Homo sapiens: one gene and its partners. The protein of the gene in region 2 purifies or fractionates together with the protein of the main gene of each other region. This does not show direct contact. Each region holds a gene or a part of one and is shown on either strand. Other genes may lie near its edges. The genes, in order: UPF1, TF, KRT72, DLD, OXCT1, ANGPTL7 and F13B.

Region 1 (3,500 bases), on a different chromosome or scaffold from region 2:
GGCGATGTTGCTCGGAGCACACACCAGCACCGGCCTGCAACACCATTGGGGCAGCTCAGTGCTTACCCAGAGGAAGCTCGGTGAACGTAGTAAGCCAAGACTCTGTTTTTTGAGACAGGGTCTTGCTCTGTTGCCCAGGCTGGAGTGCAGTGGTGTGATCTCAGCTAATTGCAGCCTCAACATCCTGGGCTCAAGCAATCCTCCCACCTCAGCCTCCTGAGTAGCTGGGACCACAGGTGCACGCCACTACCCCCAGCTAATTTCTGAATTTTTTTTTTGTAGAGACGTCTCACCCTGTTCAGGCTGGCCTTAAACTCCTGACATTTTTAACAGGCAGTAATGACACGATGCCGAAGGAGCTCAGATCCAGACAGCCCAGGCTTCACAGCTCTACCCACCGCAAGCAATGCCAAGGCTGGAACTTGCACCATCCCGCCACACTATAAAGTGCCGCACACGGAACTCACGCTGCTGCAGCCATGCCCCCCCTGCCCCCAGTTTTCTAAACCAGTAGCAGACCTGGTTACTAAAATGCAATCCTAAGGTTGGAGCTGACACGAATAATGTCACATAGAGAGCGGTAGGCACCATGGCGACACTACCCGCCACGTGCTCTCTTCGGTGTGACAGAGCCCAAGGCTCCCAGCACCAGGCCTTCCATCTGGCCACCCTAAAGCCCTCCCGGGTCTTGCCCGCAAGGGCCGTGTCAGCCCTACCCGTTGCCTTGCCGGGCCAGGTGGTAGACGATGGTGGCCGACGTCACCGTCTTCCCCGTGCCTGGCGGGCCCTGGATCAGGCTCAGTGGTCTTTGCAGCACAGTCTTCACGGCATAAACCTTCAATACAAGCGGCCGTTAGGGGCAGCCTCCGCTTGCGTCCCGGCCCATGGGCGAGGCCCCGCGCGCTGAGGACGGCGCGCACCTGGGAGTGGTTGAGGTCGGGGAGGCCCTGCGCCGTGAAGCGCTTGGGCAGCTGGCACTTGATGATTACGTCCTCCACCTCGTGGCCCAACAGCTTGTGGTAGATGTAGCCAGACACCGAGGTCTCATCCACGGCAAACGTTTTCAATGCGCTCTGCATCCTGTGAGGAGGGTTTGGGGTTGGCGACACGCACAGCTGTGGCCGCCTCTCCGACATCCTGAGTTTGCAGAGCTGGGTGGGGAACCCCACTCCACAGTGACGGGGAGGGCTCATAAAGATGCCACAGGTGGCAACCAGGGAACAGGGGGCAGTGATGGGAGAAGACGTACCTGTCAAAGGAGGTCGACTTCCACACAAAATCCACCTGGAAGTTGTGAGTCACCTCCACAGGTGCACCCACGCTGCTCCGCAGCTCAATGGCGATCTCATCGCCATAATCTGTGTGCTGAGTTAAGTTTGCATCCTTGTCAAAAGCCGGGCTGACCTTTCTGGGCCACCCTTGGTACACGCTCTTTAAACAGCGTTTTTAAAATTTAGTTACTTAAGACACCGCTGGCTCTGCACCAAACGCTAAAAACGTGCAGCCAACACCAGACCAGAGACCAGAAGGACAGCATCCTTGAAGAAAGACTCTACCTCACCATGAGCCGGTGTCCCACCCCCAGCCAGCCTGGAGTTCCTCCTTGCCACTCCCAGCCACCCATCTAGGCCCCTTTCAGAGACGCAGAGGGCGGCAGCGAAGCCAGCAGCGCTCACCAGCAGGGAGCAGCCACATCCTGGGCCCCAGGACCTCACCGGGAGCTCCTGCACATGTGGCCAGCAGGGGCAGGCAGAGCTCGCAGAACCCAGCTTTGGCCACAGCAGCTCTTCTCACAGTTCCACAGAAACAACACCCCTCCCAGTACGGCCAAGCAAAAGGCTCCACATACACAAGCAAACTGCCCTCCAGGAGGCTGTGGCCGGTAGGCAACACCCTTCCCTCGACCCCGAGCCCCAAAACCGGTCTCACGTGTTCAGGATGAGCTTGTCAGGCCCAGGGTGGGTGTGGGAGACAACTCTCCCTACCCCTGTGGAGGCCACCGCTGAATGGTCAGGCCCCAGCAGCATTGGCCAGTCACCAAGAGGCAGCCTGAGTCTGACCCGCGGTGTCTTCTCCCAGGACTCCTCCCCACCCAAGCCTCTGACTGCACCTGTGCCTTACAGCTGCCCCACTCTGGCCGGCAGGCTGCATCACCATGAGGTCACTGCACATTCCCAAACATGGCCTGGGAGCAAGTGTGTGCTCAGAGGGTCTGCATGTGACCACTGGCTTCTGGAACCTCCGTGTGCAGAGTCAGCGTCCAGGTAAGGCGCTCCTGCAGCCACATTAACCTCCAGAGTCAGTCCAGGGACGTGCCACACAAGCGGCATACATTAACTTCCAGAGTCAGCCCAGGGACGCGCCACACAAGTGGCATCACCAACATCACCATTCGGGCAGAGGGGAAGCAACCATACAACCAGCTGTCCCCTGAAGGTGAAGGCCCTGTGATTCTCCTAAGAGCAGTGGAGGGCGATGCCAACCAGCACCCACCACAGAGCATGAGATGCTGGCCCAGCAGTGAGCATCAAATCCACAGTGGCCTCCACCTGATGCCCCCACTTTCCTCTCCCACCAGCCGGCCACACCCTCTTCACATGAAGGATACTATCAGGGACCTTGATGACGTGGCCGATCCCTTTCCACAGGGGCGCAAGGTCCCCTTTGTACCGCAGGCATATCTCATCCCCCTGCATGAGCCGCATGTCTTGAGGTAAAAAAGTGAGAGAGGTGGCCATTTTAACCCACGCCGTCGCTTCCACCAGGGAGAGTTCAAATTAAGGGGCACTTTACAAGGGTGGAACTAGGAATTTATGCTACTTATGGTCACAAATATTTTAAAACTTAAAATCACCTCTTAACCAAATTATGACTAAATCCTCATTACCAGAGTCAGTCTTGGGCAAAGTGAAGTAGGCGATTCTCTTCTTGTTAAGGCCCAGGTCCCACCTGACAGTGATGTTATCTTGAGTCTGAGCACATGAAAAACAAGAGCCCCGGTTAGCCTCCAGCACAGGCCCGGGCCTGGCCTCCACATGCCCGAGGCCCCATGAGGCGGGCCCTACAGCAAGCCTCTGCCGTGAGAGCAGGCGCCGTGAGTGGCACCTGCAGCCCCAAATGCCACCAAGGGCACATCTGAAAGAGAAGCCATTAGGAGTCCCCGGAACACACACAGGCCAATCCCGTCTGGAGGCTTCACCGCACACCAGAGGCCTCCGTGGCCAGGGAGCAGCTGCTGTGGGAGGGAGGAAGAGAGAGAGGAGGGGAGGGAGGGACAGAAAGAGGAGGGGAGGGAGGGACAGAAAGAGGAGGGGAGGGAGGGAGGGGAGGTCAGCGCTCCAGGGCTCCCGTTGCCTAAATGTGGTCTTCACAGGGATCACGCCCGAGTCTAACTCTCGCAACTGTGGGCAAAGCTGTGGACCCCACTGGGAAAGATGTGTTGGATTTAAACAGAAAACACTGAGGCTGATGTCAGATCTGAGGGCGGGGGCTCAGACCAC
Region 2 (2,874 bases):
TCAATATATTCAATTTGGATCATTTTATCTTTTCCGTGACGAGTCATGTAATGCAGAAATTTTACTAACAAAAGCTTTAACGACTTAGGAAGGACAAGGTGGCCATCCTGGTTCTCCATGAGTTCATGCTTAATTAACATTAGACTCATATCCTCTTGAATACCAGTTGTTTCCCCAAATTAGGTGCATAACACTGATAACTGATGGGTTATCATAGGTAATTTGATTTAAATGATGGAGTTTATTCAAATTTTATATCTAAACAGTTTCAGTATCAGCTGATTTAGCATGAAAATCTGGCAAAGTATTTTCTTGGTATTTAATTAATTTTTGTTCTACTTGGGTTAGCAGTTTTAGAACTCAGTCAGTCTTTTCATTAAAGTTCCAGGAATTCTTACCCAGTTCAAATGATATAATTCTAAACTTATTAGAAACCTGTATTCAAGAGTGCTTTTTAGGGTCCTTTCCAATCTTTCATGAATCTCCTAAAAGACACCATATTCTAGGACTTTGCATGCTTGTGAAGTTTTCAGAAACTGCATCAGCATTAAGCAATTAACTGTGGAAATGACTTTAAATAGTTATAGTTAAAAACACAATTGACAAGGAAATTTGGTTATTTCTGTGGTCTACAATAACATAATAATCATAATTATGATTGATAGCATATACTCAGACATATTGGAATTTTAGAAATCTCATACAATTTTGGAACATATATTAATATTATTCACTAAAATATAACCTGAAGAAGATTAAATTTTTTTCTTTTTGACAATGCTTCCCATGTAATTAAACATGTCAAATAATTCTGTTTACCTCTCTTTTGGATGCTTCAGGGGCCCTCTGCAGCATCTCAAAGTTAGAGGTTAGAAAAGACAATTTTGAAGCTGAAATTTGATTTTGGGAAGCCTATTAAATATGTTAAAGATTTAAAACACTTGACATTATGAAATGGAATTCCAGGTTACCATAGTCATTCATTTAGCAAAATGATGACTCAAAAATGTTTTAAAAGGCAAAAACCTTTCCATGTTGATAGATGGAAGACTTACTTTACAAACAATCTGTCTCTTGTCTTTCCCTTCCTTTTTTTTGGTGGGGGGGTAGTTTATTCAAAAGGCAAACAAAGATCTTTCATTATCTTTTAATACTGCATGAAAATCTTGTTCAAGAGAGAAAGCCAAATTTCACCCTTGCATTAGTGTGCTATTAATGTCAACCCCAATTTTTAAGAAAACCTTGTAGACATATCTTTCCAATCTTAATCCGTTTGACCATAAGGTGAGATTCTCATAAACCTTTTATAATCCTTTACAAATGTTTGTTAAAGAGCAGATCGGTGCTTTAAGAAAACCCTGTTTGTGCTTTTATTTTGATGTTCAATTTATGGAAAAACCAGAAAATACCCCTTTAAATTTAGTCAATATGTTCACACACATAATTTTTTACAATATTAATTTTTATAAATCTTCCACAACTCATTCAAACTTTTAGCTTTATCCTAACTTAAAACAATCCTTTAACCCTTTAGACAGAAAAAAAAATCTACATTCCCATGCCTTGTTATAATCTTTCACTGAAAATGCATTCACTTTTCTTACGTAACTTGCATGTAAAACTGTTGCTTCAGTAGTCTCACTTACATGTTACAATGTTAACTCTTAGCGAGTTTTACTTTTGGTGAAAACTTTGGTAAGTTAAGGATTTTAATTATATATTAGTTGTGGAGTCTAGGACCCAGAGAGAAGTACACTTAAGGTCTGACTCCAGCATCTGACTCCACGTGTCTCAGGCCTTACCGAGCTGTAAAGCAGGCAAGTTGTAGAGTTAAGAGTCATAGTGGCATTTTATGAAGCATTTAGGAGGTCTAATCACCGTTAAATTGTATATTTCTTGCATAAATTCTCTTTTGTAAATTATTTCATGACTTACACAGACCATCTACGACATGCTTTGACTTTCTAACTTGTCCTAAACATCCCTCTTTTTTAACAACCGCTTATTTTACTTTAGGACACGAATTTACGATATAAGATCCTTTCTTATATAAAATCTCCTTTCTTTATAACCTTCTTTGCATAGCTAGGGGACATGGCTAATTCTATTTGTCCCCAGGCCTTATCTAGAATCTAATGCTCCAAAATAAATTGAGCAATTTTTAAAAGTCAAAGAAGCGGTTTATGACCTTAAAGCATTTTGCAAATCTAATATCTGACCTGCATAATTTAGACTAAATATTTACATTTTGAAGATATTTTTATTTTACCAATAATCTTTAAAACTGTCTTTATTTCCCAAAGATTACTTAAGTTACATGAAGTAAATAGAAGGCATTACATTTTTTACTTTTCTGATAAAATATTTGATTTAAGCTCTTATTATTATTAAGCTAATTAATTAATGCTCTTTTATAGTACACACACAACACATATAAATACACAGACAGAAGATAAAGGACTCATTCCCTAAGCCAGGAATTGAACCCTAAACCCAGGCTGCCACTGTGAAAAGAGAAAGCATGGCCACATGGTTACAAGGTCAAGCTCCCAAAGACATGACTGACCAGTCTGCTGGTGTGTCTTGAACAGCAGGTCTATGGGGTCCTAAGCACACATTTTATTCTAAGGTACCCCTCTTTATGACAAAACAATACAGAAAGACACAAAGCACACCAGATTCACTACAGCTTAAGATCGGCCTCAGAATTCTTTTTTTATATTAATCAAAACTTTACAGAGGAGATAAACAGTGACTTTTACTATTCATTTATGCAGTTTGCACAGAGAGACAGAGACCAGAGTCTGGCTGGTAAGAAATTCTTACCCTTTTGCCAGTATGCCAGGTTTCTGGGTTCTGTCTCCCAAAGCAGCC
Region 3 (4,173 bases), on a different chromosome or scaffold from region 2:
CAACTCTCTTTCCCCCATTCCTTCATTTTCAGTGCTAGAAATTGAGCACACATTTCCTCGACAGTTTGGAGAACCGGTGTAGGTAGATCTATTCTTTTCCTAGTTCCATTCTGTCTGGATGTTCCTCCCTCCCCCGGTATCAGCAAGGATCTCAGAAGCAAAAATGCCATCTCCAAACGAAAACCTCATTTGAAATCAGATCCTCCAGGGCCATATTCCCTGCCACTCACTCACCTCTTCTTGTAGTCCTCCACCAAATCCTGCATGTTCCTCAGCTCCGAATCCAGCCTCACCCCGTCCCCAGACAGCATCTCCAGCTGCTTCTGCAGGTTGCTGATGTAGCCCTCATAAATGGGCTCCAGGTTCTTCCTGCAGTTGTTCAAGTCCAGCTGCTGTAGGAGGTTCCACTTGGTCTCTAGCACCTGATTCTGCTGCTCCAGGAACCGCACCTGGAACCCAAAGGCAGTCATCGCCCAGAGTCCCCATGTTGTTGCCTCTCAAGAGTGGGGAAAGGGCCCCAAAAACCAGAGGCAGCCATCCTGGGGGACTGGGGGTAGGAGAAAACAAGGCTTATCCCGGGGTGGATTCAGCCGAGGGACATGCTCACCTGGATCTCCAAGACAAGAAATAGGACCCGGTCTATATGGAATCAGGAAGAGGGCTTAAGCAATGGTACCATCTGCCTCTGCCTCAGTGAGTTTTCATGAGACAGAGGTAGCTTCTCATGCTATAAATGCTGGTGTTTTCTGAGTAAAGAGAAATGGGGAGCAGGGGAGAAACAGGGACTGGGGAGTGACATTGGAAAGCACACTGGCATTTAGAGCGTTCCTCCTGTTGTGTAGCCTAAATTGCACTTGGTTTGTTCATTTCTTTGTTGTTCACAGCAAGTTACCACATCTTCACAAAGTTCCTTCATACTTGACCAGGGTGCACATTTTTAGACTCAATAACTCCAAGCCCTCTGCCACACACCAGCATTCCTCTTCTCACCTATCTTTCAGCTTGAGGGGCAGAAGGAAACATGCTAGGGAACAACAGACATAAAAGAGCAAGAGAATGCTCTGGCCTCTGGAATAGCTGCTGTGTTTCTTCCATGCAGACCTGTGCCCTCCCGCCACCTCAATTCCTCTTCCCTAGCATAGTGGTGACACTCGGTCCACCACCAACTGTCCTGTCCAAGGTGAGCTCATTTCTTAGCCTCCCATGTCTTAATATCCTCATCTGCAAGGCAGAACAACAACAGAATCATGGGTTGTGATTGTAAATGAGAATCACTTGGGACGGCACCATAAATGTCAGCTATTGTTATCAGGCTGTCCCCTTATCACTCACCGTCTAGACCTTCCATCCAGGTGGAGACAAGAGAAGTCCATTCCCTGTCTCCTCTCCACTCACTGGGGTCATTGCCTCAGAAGCTCCAGAGACAACTTCCCTATTACCCCAATTTCTGGATGCCCCACCCTCAGCACACACCTGTAACTTTACATGCACTCTTTCCAAGTGCCTCCTCAGCCTCACCCTTCAGTTTTCTGGCCCTTTTCTCTCACCTCCTCTATCATCTTCCTGGCTACACACTTACCCCACTCCTCAAGCACCAAGCACCATGTCCTGCAACGTCTCTTGGCCTCTGTTCCTAATGCCCTGCCCTGAATGTGGGTCCCATCTCCTCTTCTGATATTGGGAGCTCTCAAAGTGCCCATTCCTTGGACATCCTGACCCCTCCCTTCTCACAGTCTTGTCTCATGCAAGAAAGAAATGAAGGTCCTTGATACGTTTTGGCTGTGTCCCCACCCAAATCTCAACTTGAATTAAGTCTCCCAGAATTCCCACGTGTTGTGGGAGGGACCCAGGGGGGAGGTAAATGAATCATAGGGGCCGGTCTTTCTCCTGCTATTCTCCTAATAGTGAATAAGTATCACGAGATCTGATGCGTTTATCAGGGGTTTCCGTTTTTGCTTCTGCCTCATTTTTCTCTGGCCGCCGCCATATAAGACGTGACTTTGGCCTCCCGTTATGATTCTGAGACCTCCCCAGCCATGGAGAACTGTAAGTCCAATGAAACCTCTTTTTTTTTTTCCCAGTCTCGGGTATGTCTTTATCAGCAGCATGAAAATGGGCTAATACATCCTGTTTATTGGAAGTATGTGCCAGGCACTGTTCTGAGCACTTCGTAAACATCCCAATTAAGCCTCATCGCAACCCACTGGAGTAAGACCCATTATTGTGCCCATTTTACAAATGGAAAAGGGAGGCTCGGAGAGGTTATGACCCGCCCACGCTCCCACACAGCTCGCCAGTGGCAGAGCCAGCACCACTGTGCACATGCGCCCAACGCAGGGACAGGCCAATGCCCGAGGACTCACCTTGTCGATGAAGGAGGCGAACTTGTTGTTTAGCGCCTTGATCTGCTCCCGCTCCTGGGCGCGCACCCTCTGGATCTCGGGGTCCATCTCCACGTTGAGCGGGGCCAGGAGGCTCTTGTTGACGGTGACCTGAGGGATGCCCCCGGGTGGGCACACGGAGGGACACTTGGGCCCCAGCCCGGCGCTGCCGAAGGCGGTGCCCACGAAGCCGCCCAGGCGGCCGCCGCCCCGCCGTGCAGCAGCGCTGAGCGCCAGGCTTCGGCTGCCCCCAAGGCAGGAGAGGCTCTTGCTGCCAAAGGAGGCCGAGCCCTTGACCCGGGCCCGGAATGAGGCGGAGCTGCTGCCGATCCCGCCAGAGAGGACCGCGGAGCAACCGCTGAAGCCCAGGCGCTCCCCGCGGGGGAAATGGGTCAGTTGGCGGCTCATGGCTCGCAAGTACCGGTGCTGGCCGCGCGGGAGGCAGAAGGGGCGCAAACAGCCGCTGCGTTCTCGGCCCAGCTCGCCCCTTAAATAGCCTGGCTGGCTGGAGTCAGCCTAATTTGTATGTCGACAACACCTTTTAGATCCCTTGAGGCCTCTTGGGTTCTTCATGTAGGAAATTACCATGCACTCACCGAGATTTTTGTCTGTTCCACCGTGAACTCCCCATGAATCCCTGTAAAGTGACCCAGAACCCAGCATTTACTTGGCTCACCTCCTGCATTATCATGGCTTAGCGACCTTATCTCCACCTGCTGGCCTCCAATTACTGGGGTTATCACTCCCAAGATCACCCCTGGAAACTTCCAGTGGGGCTGACCCTCTGGGTGTGTGTCTGGGGAGACGGAGGTGTGTGAAGCAGAAGTCCAGGCTGCTTCTGCTTCAGAAGGCCATGAATAGAGTCAAGACTATCGCAGAAAATCATCCTTAGCCTGTCCTCCTCCTGCCTCCCAGGCTTCTGGATGAGGACAGCTCTGTCCCTTGTGCAAGAAGGAAGTTCAGAAGGAGGAGATTTTGGCCCCGTCTGCAGAGACCTCTCAGTCTGTTGGAGAAGGCAGGACACAGAGACCTCTGGTCACAAGTGTTGAGGGTTGACTTTGGACCAGAGCGAAAAGATTTCTCCACTAAGCATTTCTGGACTAAGAATGGGGACCATGCTATCTGGGAGGGAGGGAAGAAGGCCTGGGGAGGTGGTACAGGAAGACTCAGGCATGGTTTAGCAGATGGTGTTTCCTAAGGCTTTCGGTTGTTTTCATTTTTGTTTTCTTTTAATAGCAGAAGAGGCTTATTTATCCCATCCAGCAAACCTCTGCTCAGGTCATTTGCCACCCAGTCATTTCTGATTCAGCATCAAAATGTGATCAGTTATTAGGAAGAGGTCAAGACTCTTCAGATCTAAAACCAAGAACTAGATTCTAGAACTTCATTCCCTTTAAGCTACAGAGGCTCCTTCTTCCACCTAACCCGATTTCCTTTTCTCAAACTTAAGCTGCCTTCAAGTCTCCTCCTCTCTTAGCAACAGCTCTCCTGTTCCTCTGGCATGCAGGTGGGATTATTTCATTGCTCTTATTTCTTAAGCTGCCAGAGTCCTGGGTGTGTGTTCCATTTCCTCTATCAGATTGACAGGGCCCCCTGGATTCACCCTTCCCTCCTCTGCTCCCCCAGTGCTCAGCCCAGGCCTTGGCCAAAGGGACATTTAGGATGATTGTGAAACAGCAGAGTGCTTAGGGCAAGGCTTGTTACTGCACCTTCAGTGATACCCTGAAGGCTGGGTTCCCCTTGGGGACCTCATGGGTTGGTTAAATGGTACCTGGGGGTAATTGGCTGACAT
Region 4 (3,500 bases), on a different chromosome or scaffold from region 2:
CAAGACTCGGACTCAAAAAAAAAAAAAAAGAAAAACAAAAATACTAACAATTAAAGGGAAGCCTAAGAAAGGGGAACTTGCATAATATGGAGAATTCAGCCCAAAGAGCAGATGTAAAAATGGAAGAATATGAAATCACAGAAGTTAGGCAAAGTGTTTCAAAGGCAAGAAAATCAGCAATGCTAATTACTGCCAAATAAAGCAGTGAAGAAATTAGTCCAACAGATTGAGCAATAAATAGATTCATGCCCTAAGAGCAATTTATTGGCACAAGCCATAGACTGAGTGAGTGGAAGTTGATGAAATAAAGCATGGACAACTCTTTTGAGAAGCTGGGTTTTGAAGGAAAAGTGCGAACAAAATTGGTAACTCAAGAAGGACATGGGACCAAGATAAGGAGCATTTATGTGCACACAAACCTGTGTTAATGAGTGCAAATGCATCACAGGTACACACATAGAAGCACATGAAATTGTAAATAAAAGGAAGGAGTTTGAAGACTGAAAAATACAAGAATAAAAATCACAAAACCAAGTCTCTGAAAAGGCAGATGATGTGCTACCAAGCACAAGTAAAGGGATTAGTCTTAGGGAAAATGGCATTTCCACAGTAATAGGAGAGGTAATCAAAAGGATAGGTGTAACAACAGGTAAAAGCATTATCAAATTTAGGACATCAACTTGAGGGAGTTCTCATCTGATTTCTCTTTTATGTAATATTTAAAAGACAAGGTCATCCACAGGCAGAGCAGACAGTATACAAGCAGAGATTTGAGAAGAGTAGAAAATGAAAATGGCCATTGCAGAGACCAGGGCAGTGTACCATCTTAGGAAATAATAAACTGTCAGCAAGGCTGAGGTTCTTGTTAAGGTTTGTGCCAAGAATTAATACAAGTACCAATGAGTAGGGTGTGTTTTTCTCCAGGTGTAGTCAACAGCCTGGAAATAGCATAAAAAAGGCAGACTGCTGCATTCAAACCGAACTAGAGTTTTGCCAAGCAGATATGACAGAACAGTGAGACAAGCAACTCAAGGACATCTGTAAGAGTGTGGTTAAAGTGATGGACTATGGCATCTAAGCTGATCAGGAACGCAGTCAAGATTGGAAAGGGAAGATTGCAAAAAAGTAGATCTATGGACTAGAAAACCTAAAAAAGGGTACAAAGTACACTATGAATAACTGAGTAAAAGAGGAAAGGAGGTCATGGTTACATAATAAAATATCTGAATTTATTATTTCAGAAGTAGAGCAATTCCTGGTGTTTACAAGGCACAGTGACTCTAAAATGGAGGGAGGTCATTGGAAATGTGTGGAAAGCTGCCAGATGGACAAGAAGGGAGAACAAGGCAGACAGAAGGTCTAAAATAACATGGTGTTCAAAGAAATGCAAGTAGTTTGACATTTCTAAAACCTAAGTTAAGAGGCATCAAGATGAGGATAGAGAAGGGAAGAGCCAAATCATGTATGTGATGGTAAAGAGAATAATCTTTATTTGGAATGCAATTTGCCCAGGATAAAAGCTGTCCTCAAATATCTGAATGGCTGTCATATTAAAAAAGAATTCGACCAGTTCTAGGAAATGGAAGGGTGGAAGGTACAAGGAAACAGACTAAAATAAAGGAGAACATTCTAAATGAGTAAATACATAAATAGGTTGTCTTGAAAAAAACAAAAGTAAACTCTTTATTACTAGAAGTGTTTAAGCAAAACTCAATGCTGATCAGCCTGTAATGTTATACAAAAAATCAAAAAGGGGACCTTTAAGTCCCTTCCAACTCCAAGGAGGTAATAAGAGGCAGAAAGACAACACTTACCAATTCTACACCTATTACTCCTGCACCAATAACAACCATCTTTTCTGGAACTTTTTTTAAAGATAAAGCACCTGTAGATGACACTATTGTATCTTCATCTATCTGTAAGAAAAACAAAAGATATAATCAAAATAATTTGAAAAAACCTAGTACAGTCGACCCTCCATATCCATGGGTTCCAAATTTGCAGATTTAACCAACCATTAATTGAAAATATTCAGGAAAAAAATTGATGGTTGCATCTGTACTGAACATGTACACATGGTTTTTTTGTCATTATTCCCTAAACAATACAGCATAGGAACTACTTGCATAGCATTTACAGTGTATTAGGTATTATAAGTAATCCAGAGATGACTTAAAGTATACAGGAGGAAGTATGCAGATTATATGCAAATACTATGTCATTTTATGTAAGGCACTTGAGCATCTGTGGGTTTTGGTATCCAAGGGGGGTCCTGGAACCAATCCTCCAAGGATATGAAGAGATAAATGTATTTATAAACTGTGATCTCAGTAGAATCACTAAAAATACTAAGTCATTTATTTGTTTTGAGGTATCTATATACCTAATTTCATCAAATCCCATTAAAAACACTGACTTTAAATTTTATCCACCAATATTCCAAACGCAATGGTCAATTTTAACTTCATACTGTATTCAAACATATCTTAATATAAAGTGTTCTATAGCTGGTCAGAATCACTGCAGAATAAAGACAGGTAACTTCCCAAAGCTGAATGACCATCAAAATATAGTATTTCAGTCAGAAATCTCTCAAAGTTCACAAATAGCATAAATAACTTATAAAACGTATTTCTAAAGAAAAGTTGTAATGGTTGTAAATTATGAAGCATAAATACCGTGATTCCAGGAAAAGGAGTAACTTCTGAACCCGTGGCTATAAGAATGTTCTTTGTATCAATAACCTGAGTGCCGCCATCAGCTTTCGTAGCAGTGACTTGATTTTTGCCAGTTATCTTTCCATATCCATTGACATGAACAACCTTTACAAAATAATCTTTATAAATTCACAAAGTTTAAAGTAATTTGTTTGATAAATCATTCAAAGGAAAAATTACTCTGTAAATAATTTATCTAAAACAAAATGCTTCCTTACTTAGTAATGCTACACCATGGTGCAGCAAAAAAATCTGTGATATATGTCAGGGAAATCTATTTCAGGTTAGCAAGCTATTTTAAATTAAATAAATATTCCCCTGTAACCAAGTTCAAATATCATCACTCTATAATGCAAAGTTTAATTTGTATTCAAAGTAAAGCAGAAATCTGAATATTAAACACTGACCTTATTCTGTTTGAATAAGTGGGCAATTCCACCTGTTAAAGCTTTTACTGCAGTACTCTTCTGCTCCATCATCTTGTCTAAATTCAAGCGAACTTCGGACACTGTAATTTGTTCAATTAATCTTTAGTTCTTAGCTAAATTCTTGAAGCAATATGCAGTGTTTTTCACTCACCAACTGGAAAATTTCAACCTAATGCTTATAAAAGGCAGTATTAAAGTTTCAAAATGTAATAACTTATAATTATAGTTGACAAAAGGCCAACATCATTGTATCACAGAAACAGAACCTATCAAACACTATAAAATGTCTACCTTGGGTAAAAAGGCAGTCCAAAATAAAACATTATATCCCACTGTGATAACATATCCTCTGAAC
Region 5 (3,500 bases), on a different chromosome or scaffold from region 2:
ATTCTTGTTAGCTTCCTAGGATCGTGATACAACTGCAATTGCTGAAATAATTTACTTAAAGACAGATAATTAATTCCAATATGGAAACTTCAAAACTGAAATATTAATTAATAACTAGAAATACTCAATTTAATTAGAATCAAAGTCATTCACCAAGAATAAGGTCATATAGCAATATGAAATGCCTCCACATTAGTCTGTTATTTTAGAATTAATTTAAAAGACAATTTTTCTATCAACATAAAACAGTTCAAAAGAACAAGGATCAAGAAAAACTAAACTCAACATTGTTGTGGTGAAAGAATTAGCTTTCTGGTGACACGCACGCACACAAACATACACACCTTTAAGTTGTGAGTACTCAGCTTAACAGATACAGTGTCCAAAACAAACGTTTGCTTCCATGAACTGACTTATACAAGGATAGTAGTATTGATTTTTGTTTCCTAAACTAATCACTGAAATCTGGAAATCTGTGAGGTTAAGTAGCCCTTCTTATGCTGTTCTACTACTATATGCCTTCACTAGGCTCCTCCTACAGTGCAAGAATACCAGGGCTTACAGAAGACATTTTACTTATTGTGCAATGCTCACAAATAGCTGAAAAAGGCAAGGACATGGTGGATAAAAGCTATCTTCTTTGATAAACAGAAAAATCAAACAAAAATTCCAAGGAAAGGTCAGAAAATATGTCGGCATCCAAGTTGAACTACTGGGTAGAGAGGCATCTGGGGATGAGTGAGGAGACAGGGAAAGTGGGGCCGAAGACCCCTTGCCACTGCACTCTATGTCCTCCCCTTGAAAACTCTGTATGCTCCAGTATTTTCTATTCGAGGTGGAGGTGGGGAATGCAGAGCAGCTAAGCACTACTGCTACCTCTTCAACTGGTTGGAACTTTCAGCCATTAGGGCTCATTCACATCTTTCCATATTCAGTTTTAGCCTTCAAAGAAGTTCTTGACTTTAAAAATGTGTTTATACATTAATCCAGTATCCTGAGGATAGACATGAAGATTTATTATTCATGAAAACACTAATCACAAAATTTATTATAATAATGAATTGAAAACAACTTTAATGTCAGCAATAGGGAAATGGTCAAATAAACATGGTGTAGCCATGTGATTAATCAATATTATGCACTCATAATATTTAATGATCTCATAATTTCATGTTTCATAAAATGCAAGATTTTGTATAAGTAAATAAAAATTTATAGAAATGCACTTTGGGATAGACAATTATTTATATACCTACAGAAAATAAAAGGAAACACACGGAAATGCTAAGAATTGTTATCTCTGGGTAATAGTACAAGTGGTTTTTGTTTTCCTTTTACTTTTATAATCAAAACTGAAACCCACAATGTTATTTTTTCAGAAGATGTGATAAACACTAAGTTTCTAAAACTAGAAAATCATAAGTGGAGCATGTGATAAATCTCACAATTAGTTTGACATGTACCAAAGAGGGCATGTTAAAAAGAAAATAGAGAGTCTAAGAAAAACTGAAGTTTCTAAACCCTAAAAGCAGTCACATTATGAACTAAACTAAGCAAACCCTTCTTGCCTGCACATTTGAAAATAATAATGTGAATTATTTTTCATGCCTAATATTGCTCCAAAAGGTCAGGCCCTCAAATCTCTTGCTATGATTGTGACAGCAGCTTCCTTTGGTCTTCCTGCCTTACCCTCTAGCAGGGGCAAAGAACATAATAAAAAAGGAAGAAAAAAAAGTATTGCTCACTTAAACTGAAAATGCTGATGGAAACCCGCCACTATTTTCTTTTGGTTCCATCAAAGAATGTTTCAACAGAAAACACCAAATCAAGACAAAGCTTCATTACCAAGGACAATTATATCATAACTCTCAGAACTAACAGAATGAATATGTCCTGGTAAAACAACTCCGATAAGCAAGAATCTAGCTAAACATAAACAATTCCATGTTTTGTCATCCTAATATAAATGGCTTTCAGACTGTAGAAAATGCATGTGCAGCATTTGTCAAAATAACAACACTCAACAGTATTGAAAACGTCTATACAAAAATCAAAGCTTTCTCAGAGTTGGTTAGCAGAGTTAATAGCTAAGAAAGAAAATATTTGAAGTACAAACCAAAAGAAGAAAACATGTTTTCAGACAATCTATGAAAAGAGTTTAAAAAAAAAAATGAAGAGGCAGAACTATCTTAATGCTAGCTATTGAAGGGACTGACTTCAGTGCCAGTTTCGTGTGATCTTGAGAACAATAAGGAAGGAGCAATGGGAGGATTAAAAAGTCTAGTGAGATCAGGCGATTTAAACATAAGCGTTAATGGAAAACCTGATGAGAAAATGATGACTAAAATGAGCTGGTTAGGACAAACATAAAAATAAAAGATCCCTTACTAAAGATGGCAGAGTTTTCCTCCTGAAGTTAGAAATGGGTAATAAAGAATAAAGGACAAAGGAAAAGCCTCAGGGCAAAGCAATGGGCAGATGTAAGTATCCTCAGGCAAGATCAAGATGGAAGAGAGGTAGCTAAGAACAACCCGGACTTCTCCATGGCACTATGAATAGTTCTCATGCCCCACCACTTGCTACAACCAGAAATCCAGACGTTTGAGGCTTCTCTAATTGGTACTTGTCTTTAGTCATTAACAGAAAAATAGACACTAGGAAATGTTGTTATTGATCTGAACTTTGTTTTAAAAGATTGCTTTCTCTGCACTGCACTCTTCCTACTTTATAACTGAAAACTTATTTTAAAGCTTAGAGAAGGATAAGAATTCATCCCTTGGTGACAATGTGTTTGTGATTGCTTGGCAAACATTATATCTCAGGTAAGAGAAAAGAGGAGCTGCAAGGCAATAACGTCCTCATTTTTTATTTTATTTTAGTGACAACCTCAATCTGTTATAGACACAAAAATGGACCCAACCCTAAATGGTGTTAGCGAAAAATTATACACACCTGCAAAACTCTGTGTACGATACAAAGTAAGGGCTGTTGAGGGGGAGGAAGAGGGAGACTCACATTCCAGGCTTTCTTCCTGACTCATTTTAAGTTTCAAAAAAGTTTAGGAGGAAACTTCTTTTGCCAAAAAGAAAAGAAAAAAAACAGACAACAAGCAATAATGTCTAGAATCATGAGAAACATTAACTCCAAAAGAGAGGGAAAAAAAAAAAAAGCAGCTGTGGAAGTCTAGAAAAATAAAAGGGGGAGACAATAAGCAATAAGAGAAGTTACAAGTTAAATGCAGAGGTGCTCTGGATGTTAAAATGAAGTAAAATGAGTAAAATGAAGAGGAAATGTGAGTAAGACCTCACGTTCAATAGATAAATAGGATAACTATAGTTAAAAATCTATTGTACCTCTCAAAGTTGCTAGAAGAGAATAATTTGAATGTGCTTAGCATAAAGAATAGATAAATATGGTAATGAATATCCCAATTACCCTGATTTTACCTTTATGTTATACGAATATGTCAAATTATCACAGGTACCCTGAAAACATACAGG
Region 6 (3,932 bases), on a different chromosome or scaffold from region 2:
CATCAGTGTCTGCATTTGGGAGAGGTGGATATGGGGAGATCCAGAGGGGGTGTATTTTGGCTTTACTAGCGGTGGAGCAGAGGGGTAGGGAAGCCCTTCACCTGGATAGCATTAGTGGGACGTTCCAACAGGTGGTTTCAGGTTAACTCTGAAATAAATTATTCTGCTATAGCTGGGCCATGAATTCTAGAAATGTTACAGTGTATGAGGGCCACGTAACAGATACTCCTGTCAGATAGATTCAGACTTCTTAGACAGCCGCCACTATAACAAATCAGTCGTGAATATCTCATAGAGTCTGGTTTTGTTGATGTTTCCTGGTTGGTTGTTTTTGTTGTTGTTCAGAGATGGTGGCTACTGCCACCTGAGACCATAATTAAGGGAGATAGATTTTATTATCACATATTTTCCCCTTCCATCCAGCTAGCACCTCAAAACACTCAGAAGAACCTTTGAGGCCTTCCTCCCAGAAGTTTTGTTAAAACAATGAAATGAGAGCATCAGACTGGCCAGTTTTTTTACTCTAGGGCCATGGAGCTGCTACTTTATGCAGGATTTAAGCTCTGTATTCTAAATATCAAAGAGCATAGTGGAAGAGACAGCCTTTTCTGATAGGATTCAGAGACTGCGGCCCTTACTATCCAAGAGAAGCTTCCTGCCTGCTATGTCTCGGGGTGCTTTTCTTGGTGACCACTGCACTGGGACCTTAGAGAGGAGCACCAAGATGGCAGATGGGAGTTGTCTGAGGCACATAGGTTCTCTTGCAGAGCACCTTGGGAAAGGGAGGTAGAGTACGTGTGCCTTCGCCATCACTATTCTTCATTTCGTCTTAGTGGTGAAAGCACCAACTTACTGCTTCCTCTAAGGGACTACCTACTTATAGAATATAAGGGTAACTGAGCACTTGGTCATAGAGAAGAAAAATAAGGAATGATGTCCTGGGCAAGAAGAGCAAGAGACCTGGTGGGAGAGCTGCACTTGACCCCAAGAACCTCCTTGCAGGATGGTGAGAAAGCCTCCTGTTTGGATGAGCAGGAAGTGGCACGGTCAGATTCCTCTGTCTGGCCTGGTCTTCCGCATGTCTGGTTTCATCTCACAGACCAAATCAGGACTCACTTGTCTGGAAAATGGCCTGAGAATACCTTTCTAATCCCAAACTGAGGGCCCGGAAGTCCATGCTTAGAAAGTGATTGATACATGTTGGTTCAGGTAACAGAATTTTCAAGCTTGGTTTCATGTTAAAACTTTTTCTTAATTTGAGCTGAGGTTAACCATTGACTTAGTCAGTAGAAGCTGATCATGTCTTTGTTCTTCATGTAGTTTATAATGGGACCAATGGTTTTTATATCAGCAAGAAATGACATGTCTATAGGATATGCTCCTTACAACTAATATTTTCCTGATAATTTCAGAAAACCAAATTTTTATCTCTAAACCGTAAATTCATGTTGGCCCACCTGAGCTGAGCTAACCAGAAATAAAAGTTATTTTGCAAAAGAAAGATTAAATTTATCTTATTTTTGGCCTATTAAGTCTATATTTCAGCATTGCATTTAAAAAATCCTGTATTCGGAGAAATTCATTTAAGACCATGGAAAAAAATAGACGTATCACAATTGAGGAACCTTAAGGAGCCGCATCCTTCCTGAACACAAAGGGACTCTTCACATGGTTATGTGTCTCTACACTTAACTCTGAGCCAATGAGAAGAGTTACGTTTACAGAGAGAGGACACAAAATTCCATTAATGCTCATTCCTGGTAAATCTTAGGAACACCAGAGAACTGTTTCTGGCAAAACTTTGCTTCCAGAGGAACAGCTGTTACAGTTTGGTGCTTCCTTGGAATTTCTTGAGATATAGCCTGTCAGCTCTTGGTGAGGAAGTAGCAGAGCTACACCAATCAGGAAGACTTGAACCCTGCTTCTAAGACTTGCTGGGTGACTTTGGGCAAACCATGTAGTATCTCAGCACTCCAAGATGGTAGGCTGAAACACTGTGTGGATAAAAGAGACCCGTGAAGGTGTTAGGTAAACTTACATAGCATTAGAAGTCAAAGGAAATACTGCATAAGCCTTTACTAAAGGGAAAGTGTACCCACAAAAGAGGCCCCAGTAGTGGTTCTGATGACCAGGATATGTAGAAGCAGTGCTGTAGATGGGGAGGCACTCCACGCTCCCTCAGGGGACTGGTCTCCTTACCTGCGGAGGTCTGAGTGACCGTCTGTGCTGCCTGCAGCTGCATGATGTCAATTTGGTTGTTCATCTCGGAGTACTTGCTCTCAGCATCTGTGAGCCGCGACTCCATGCGCTTGCTGTTGCTCTCCAGCTCCATCACCTGCATGACCACGCTGACCCAGTCCCTCTCCTGCTTCTTGTTCAGTTCACTCAGCAGGCTGCTAAGGTTGGCAACTTGGGCCTTGAGCTCCTTCACCTCCTCACAGCAGTTGGCCGCTTTGAGCTGTGGCTGTGCTGGTGTCTTGTGCTTAGAGAGCTTCTGCAGCCACGCTGGGTGGCTGACAAAGGCCACGATGAAAATGCAGAGCCAGGTCACAGCTGAGAGAGGCTTTTTCAGCATCTTTTGTGGGTTTGGGTGAGGAAGGCTCTTCCTTCAGGGGAGTCTGGAGATGCCCAGCTGAGGTCTGCAAAGCTGCAGCAGGCTGACTGAACCTTACGCTTTCACTCTGAGGGCCTCGCCACTTTGTTGTTTTCTCTCTTTCCTTGCTCTTTGCTAGCCTTTCTCAAAGCTTGAGTCTCTGACAGGGGAGCTGAATGGGTAGCCTATAGCTTTCCTTCCAAGCCCGAATGCTCCACAAGTCAGCATCTTAAATATTGTTTGCTGCCTGTACCTCCACCCCTACCATGGCTGCACCAGGCTTTAGCCCCTCCCAGCTCATCTGGGAGGGTCAGGTGCCTGTTGGGTGAAGTCAGCGGCAACTTAGGCCAGAGGAGGGGAGGAGGGAGATGGGGCGAGTCTTTCTTTCCTTGCCTGTACAGTCTCTGGGCTAAGACAAGAGGACTGTGAATTTGTGTGTTTCCAGTTTCGCCTATTAGATTATGCCCCTGCCAGCCACTGGCTCAACTCTATCAGCAAGCAGGACAGGGTCAGAAGAATTTCCAAATTCCGTTCAAAAGGTTATATAACCATGGGGTGAGCGTAAGGTAGGCGAAAGAGACGCTACTCACCCAGGGAGGCCTGTTAATGTAATCCATGCTGTTTATATGAGGATCTGGTATATTTTGACATCCTGCTGAATATGCTTTTATCTAGGCTGATTATTCCCATCTCTGATCATTATTTAGTATTTTATAAAATCCTTACTCAACCTGGATCTAACACTATCTCACATTTGAAATCTTCCAACTTAGAAAAGTTCTAGAAATAGAAGAATAGAGTAAATCTCTTAGGAAGCCAAAAAAAGACTTTGTAGCCACAGGGTTTGGACAGTTGTCTTTTTACATGCTTTCTCCTTCAACAAAGAGAGGGCCAGTATTAGCATATAACACTTGATATTTTGCAAGGAGGTGTCAGAAGATTACAACAGAGATGAAAACTCAGCAGTGCCAAGCATGTCTGGGATTGGTCACCCATGCTTCTGTCAGTTTCTAGGCAGGACAGAGAACAGGCCCATCCTTAGCCCGTGGTTCAAAACTTGGAAAATATATTAAAATATAGAGAAAAGAATCCCTGTCACCTAATAAATCCATATCTAGAGTCTCATTTCCCTCTTTCTTTGCTGGTATGGTTTGCAATTTGAAATTATTCCTCCTCTATTTGTATATGACTTTGTATCTAAAAAACATGAATATTGTAATTTTTCATGTACTATATATGAAGGACAATGCTCTTTTGAAAAGAAATGTGAAAAACATGGAGTTTCAGCAAACATCCTTAAAATAAGCTTTTCACTAAGAATCTATACAAAGGTTCCTCT
Region 7 (4,043 bases), on a different chromosome or scaffold from region 2:
CTGTTAAGTCTGCACACCAGATTCACGCCCTTTCCTGAGTTCTGGACAGGAAAGTTTGTGTTCGGTTGGAATTGTTACTAAGTTCAGCTGGAGGTTTCCTTCTCCCTGTGGTCTTTTCCCAGTTCCTCCGGCAGCCCCTGTGAGACAAGTCAGAAATGGCTTCTCTGGGGACCCACAGAGACGATGGGGCTTTACCCTTTGCTTCCTCTACCCCTGTATTTCGCTCAGCTCTCTAAATTGTCTGAGCTCCAGGTAAGGTCAAATCCTTCTCCTGTGATCTAGACCTTCAGGTTCCCCAAGGGTGTGTGTTCAGGGGTGGACAATACCCCTTTCACACTTTTCACAGTTTGGGCATTCACAGTATGTGGGCTATTTTCTGGGTCATGCAGGAGCAATATACTTTCTTCAGAGGGTCTGTGGATTATCTTGGCTTTCCTGTTATATCCTTGCAGCAGTTCTTGGAGCAAAAGTTCACAATGCGAGTCTCCACATCCTGCTCTGTCCATCCAAGTGGGAGCTGCAAGTTAGTCCTGCCTCCTATCCACCATTTTTTCCTATTTTGTATTTTAAATTAAAACTCATTAGAATGTAAACTCCATGAGGGCAATAATTTTAATCCAGTTTTTTCACTGCTAAATACCTCAAAACTGTTACATGTGCTGCCATTATCATGGACGTTCTAAACATTTCTCATGAATGAATGTTGATATAGCACAGTGCTGATCTCACCACCTGCCACAAAGTAAAAACTCTCTAAATGTCAAACACTACTATTATAAGTAATACTATTCTATCATTGAGACAACTATGGTTCTGTATCTCTTTAAGGAGTGCAGTCTAGGCAACAACATATTTCAACATCAGGTATCTGTTATCTCATGTTCCTAAGTTCATCTTTTTACCTGATCAATATTAGTAAAGATCTATGGCCTCAAGTGAACTTTACTCTATGAATTTACAATTGGGAACTTAGGTTGAAAATTTACCTAGTATTATTTATTCTGCTGCTATAATTTATTATTTATTCTGCTGCTATTGTTGCCCTAATCAGTTATCATGCTCTTACTGGACTCTGACATGGTAAGTAATGTCAATTAATATAGTTGTGTTATTTTAACATTATTTCAAAATATTTTAAGTGAAATATAAGACTCGTTACAAAAGGACTTAGACAGAGGTTATAAATTATTAACTTTTTCCTCAAGAGAAGTATTGTGTACTTAATGACAAGTTCCTAGTGCTTAGAATTGTTAAAATCTTTGTGAAGCACACCACTGAAGATGAGGTTGAAAAACCTGACTTTTATCATCATATTGATAATCTCAGGAGAACTCTATGCAGAAGGTAAAATTAATTCTTAATATTCTTTATTCTCTAAAACATACAAATGGAGATTCTAATATTTATACAACTCAAGTTTTAATATACTCTTCTATTTTCATTATCAATTTTATAACATATTTTATAAATATAACTTTTTATAATATTTAGACCTTTTCCTTTGAGCAAAATTAGTAAAGTGTTCTTACAGTAGCATAAGTCAGAAAAGCAAAACAAAACAAAAACCCTTGTATCTCTAGGGGGCATAGGAGACCAGGATCTAAATACTTCGAAAAGGTTTTCAGGTTAACAATATGTCCATTTCGAAGTCACATGTTAACTTTAATTCTAAATTTATGCTAGAATCCATTCCTAATACTGACAAAACTTGTACAATTTTAATTCTGTTCATAAGGTGAGAGTTTAATGTGGGAAATTTGAAAAGGAAATAGCCATAAATATTTTTTACTTTTGAGACTTTGATTTTTATCACAATGAATTATTCATTTGTTGGAGACATTAAGTAGTGATTAGTAGGTGAACCATATAATTGCTTGTACAAACAGGGACACTTAGAGAGTAAAAGAGGGGCTCTATTAATAACTGTTTGGACAACACATGTAAATCAGGACTTTCCAAACAAACCAATACCTATGGACTCCCTATTAGAAAGCTTTATAGTCAGATTGCCCAATGTGTAAGATTAGTGTGCGAGTGGAAGCTAGGCAGTGTACATGGGTATGTTGTTCAGGAACATTATCAATATTATCAGGCCATAGGATGAAGAATCCAGGGAGGACACTTAGCATTAGCAAGAGTGAACATACAAAGAAGGAAGCTACAGCAATACAGCTTTTCTAAAATAAACATTTTTGGGAATTTGTTGAAATTAAATACATAAGTTTTAACTGTGTTTTAGTTGAATAGTTAACTATAAATTTTCTACCAAAACATCTATAATTAAAATTATAAAAGTGAAAGACACAGAATTAATCTTATTTTATACTTTTAATTCTATAATAGGATGATTTTTGCATGAATTTCTTTTGATTTTATTTTTCTGTCTAAATAGGGAAATACCAGCAGATATAATTGTCTGTTATCTATACCATAAAGACATTGCAATATTCTAGTTAATTTTCTAATTATTATAAGGTTATAATGCTATTTTACACAACAAAAAAAAAAGTAAGCTGCTTGAAGACCAAGACAATGATTTTATTTTTGCATGCTTCTCTCAACTCCCATTGTGCACTTCAGGGACAAGAATTGAATTAATTGTGTTTCTCATTTCATGGTATGCAAGTATTATTGGCCTATGAAAGGTCTCACTCTTGCTTTACTTACACATTTTATCCCCTTATTCCTAATCTTGAAGTCCATTTCCCCTGGGACCTACTACAATGTTTTAACATGTTACTCTAGCTCTCTCAACCACAAATAGCTCTGGAATGAATATTGTAATATAACCAACTTATCTTTCTGTAAGAATGTCATCAGTCTGTATTCACTCACAGATAGCATTATTGAGTCTATTCTTGTACTTGATTTCTGTAATGAGAGATTACTTTTGCAGAATGGCAGTTTTGAAGTATATCATCTCTGAGAGAGGATGTAAATTGTTGCTCCTCATCATTCTCACCAACACCTCATATTGTCCATTTTTGTACTGGTTGCTATATGGTTATTCATAAAGTGATATCCCATTTTTATTTATTTACCATTCTCTGATCAGTAGTAAGTGTGTCCATCGCTTCATGTACTTTTTTTAATATGTTCAGACATCTGTGATTTCCTGGTTTATATGTGATTAGTATATTCCTCACATTTCTCATTAATTTTTTGTCAGGAATTCATATTCTCCAAGGCATTCCAGCTACCTTAACAAATAATGTGCCTATCCTGGTGGTGGAGGGAGATGTCCCAGGACAGAGAGTCTTTAAAGCCACAACCTAGGATTGTTGTGCAGAGAATACTTTGCTGCCCCTCCCTGACAAGCAACTGTGCCCCTCAGGGAAATTTCTTGTGTATTCACCATTGCACTGCTATTTTGGAAGACTCTTTTTATTGTAAATTCCTTTGGTGCTTGGGTGTGAAAAAATGGTGAGAATAATTCTCAAGGAATGGGGACTATCCAGCCCATGTTTTTCTGTCTGCTCCATCAGATAGTGGAAGTTTTGTTGCTCATCATTCCACATCCATTTCCTTCAAACCTAGGCTAGCACTACTAGTATTTTATGTCTCATAGTAGCATTAAGGTATACAGTGATCAACCAAGGCATTGAAGCCGTAGTAATCACACTGGATCTAGGCCTTCTTCCATCCATGACTGCCCATGTTTCTTCCCACCACAGCTCCTAGGATTGTTCGAGCATTTCTTTCTTTTAAGTGTTTTTATGACTTTAAGATCTTCAACATAAAGATATATTTTTAAAATATATGTTTTATTTGGAGTATAACATATCCAGAAAAATGCAAAAATCACAGGATACACTTATATAGTTTTTACAAAATTTTACACCATCCAGATCAAGATATAGAACAGTGATAGTACCCCAGAAATATGATCCTTCTAAGGCACTAAACCCCAAAGGTAACCATTCTGACTTCTATTATCATGGATTAGTTTGTTTTCTTTTAAAAAGTTATGCAAATGTATACATTAATTCATATGTGATTGGCTTCTTTCACTCAATATTATGTTTATGAGATTCACCATTTGT

Evidence for each region.
Region 1: the proteins of TF (region 2) and UPF1 purify together in Homo sapiens (co-immunoprecipitation; one large-scale study listed by IntAct). This does not show direct contact.
Region 3: the proteins of TF (region 2) and KRT72 purify together in Homo sapiens (co-immunoprecipitation; one large-scale study listed by IntAct). This does not show direct contact.
Region 4: the proteins of TF (region 2) and DLD fractionate together in Homo sapiens (co-fractionation; one large-scale study listed by BioGRID). This does not show direct contact.
Region 5: the proteins of TF (region 2) and OXCT1 fractionate together in Homo sapiens (co-fractionation; one large-scale study listed by BioGRID). This does not show direct contact.
Region 6: the proteins of TF (region 2) and ANGPTL7 purify together in Homo sapiens (co-immunoprecipitation; one large-scale study listed by IntAct). This does not show direct contact.
Region 7: the proteins of TF (region 2) and F13B purify together in Homo sapiens (co-immunoprecipitation; one study listed by IntAct). This does not show direct contact.

The regions. Positions count from the first base shown.
Region 1 is NC_000019.10:18,852,459-18,855,958, reverse strand, and holds part of UPF1 (regulator of nonsense transcripts 1), read right to left. Parts: intron 2,973-3,500; coding exon 2,888-2,972; coding exon of another isoform or gene 2,855-2,887; intron 2,708-2,854; coding exon 2,609-2,707; intron 1,383-2,608; coding exon of another isoform or gene 1,359-1,382; coding exon 1,250-1,358; intron 1,081-1,249; coding exon 921-1,080; intron 836-920; coding exon 717-835; intron 35-716; coding exon 1-34. UniProt on the Homo sapiens protein: RNA-dependent helicase required for nonsense-mediated decay (NMD) of aberrant mRNAs containing premature stop codons and modulates the expression level of normal mRNAs.
Region 2 is NC_000003.12:133,791,393-133,794,266, reverse strand, and holds part of TF (serotransferrin isoform 1 precursor), read right to left. Parts: 3' UTR 1-2,874. UniProt on the Homo sapiens protein: Transferrins are iron binding transport proteins which can bind two Fe(3+) ions in association with the binding of an anion, usually bicarbonate.
Region 3 is NC_000012.12:52,598,664-52,602,836, forward strand, and holds the start of KRT72 (keratin, type II cytoskeletal 72), read right to left. Parts: upstream 2,801-4,173; 5' UTR 2,790-2,800; coding exon 2,364-2,789; intron 640-2,363; coding exon of another isoform or gene 608-639; intron 450-607; coding exon 235-449; intron 1-234. UniProt on the Homo sapiens protein: Has a role in hair formation. Specific component of keratin intermediate filaments in the inner root sheath (IRS) of the hair follicle.
Region 4 is NC_000007.14:107,904,683-107,908,182, reverse strand, and holds part of DLD (dihydrolipoyl dehydrogenase, mitochondrial isoform 1 precursor), read right to left. Parts: intron 3,226-3,500; coding exon 3,125-3,225; intron 2,823-3,124; coding exon 2,679-2,822; intron 1,917-2,678; coding exon 1,815-1,916; intron 1-1,814. UniProt on the Homo sapiens protein: Lipoamide dehydrogenase is a component of the glycine cleavage system as well as an E3 component of three alpha-ketoacid dehydrogenase complexes (pyruvate-, alpha-ketoglutarate-, and branched-chain amino acid-dehydrogenase complex).
Region 5 is NC_000005.10:41,807,926-41,811,425, forward strand, and holds part of OXCT1 (succinyl-CoA:3-ketoacid coenzyme A transferase 1, mitochondrial isoform 3 precursor), read right to left. Parts: intron 1-3,500. UniProt on the Homo sapiens protein: Key enzyme for ketone body catabolism.
Region 6 is NC_000001.11:11,188,223-11,192,154, reverse strand, and holds the start of ANGPTL7 (angiopoietin-related protein 7 precursor), read right to left. Parts: upstream 2,801-3,932; 5' UTR 2,576-2,800; coding exon 2,200-2,575; intron 1-2,199. UniProt on the Homo sapiens protein: Has a role in the formation and organization of the extracellular matrix.
Region 7 is NC_000001.11:197,064,461-197,068,503, reverse strand, and holds the start of F13B (coagulation factor XIII B chain precursor), read left to right. Parts: upstream 1-1,243; 5' UTR 1,244-1,280; coding exon 1,281-1,344; intron 1,345-4,043. UniProt on the Homo sapiens protein: The B chain of factor XIII is not catalytically active, but is thought to stabilize the A subunits and regulate the rate of transglutaminase formation by thrombin.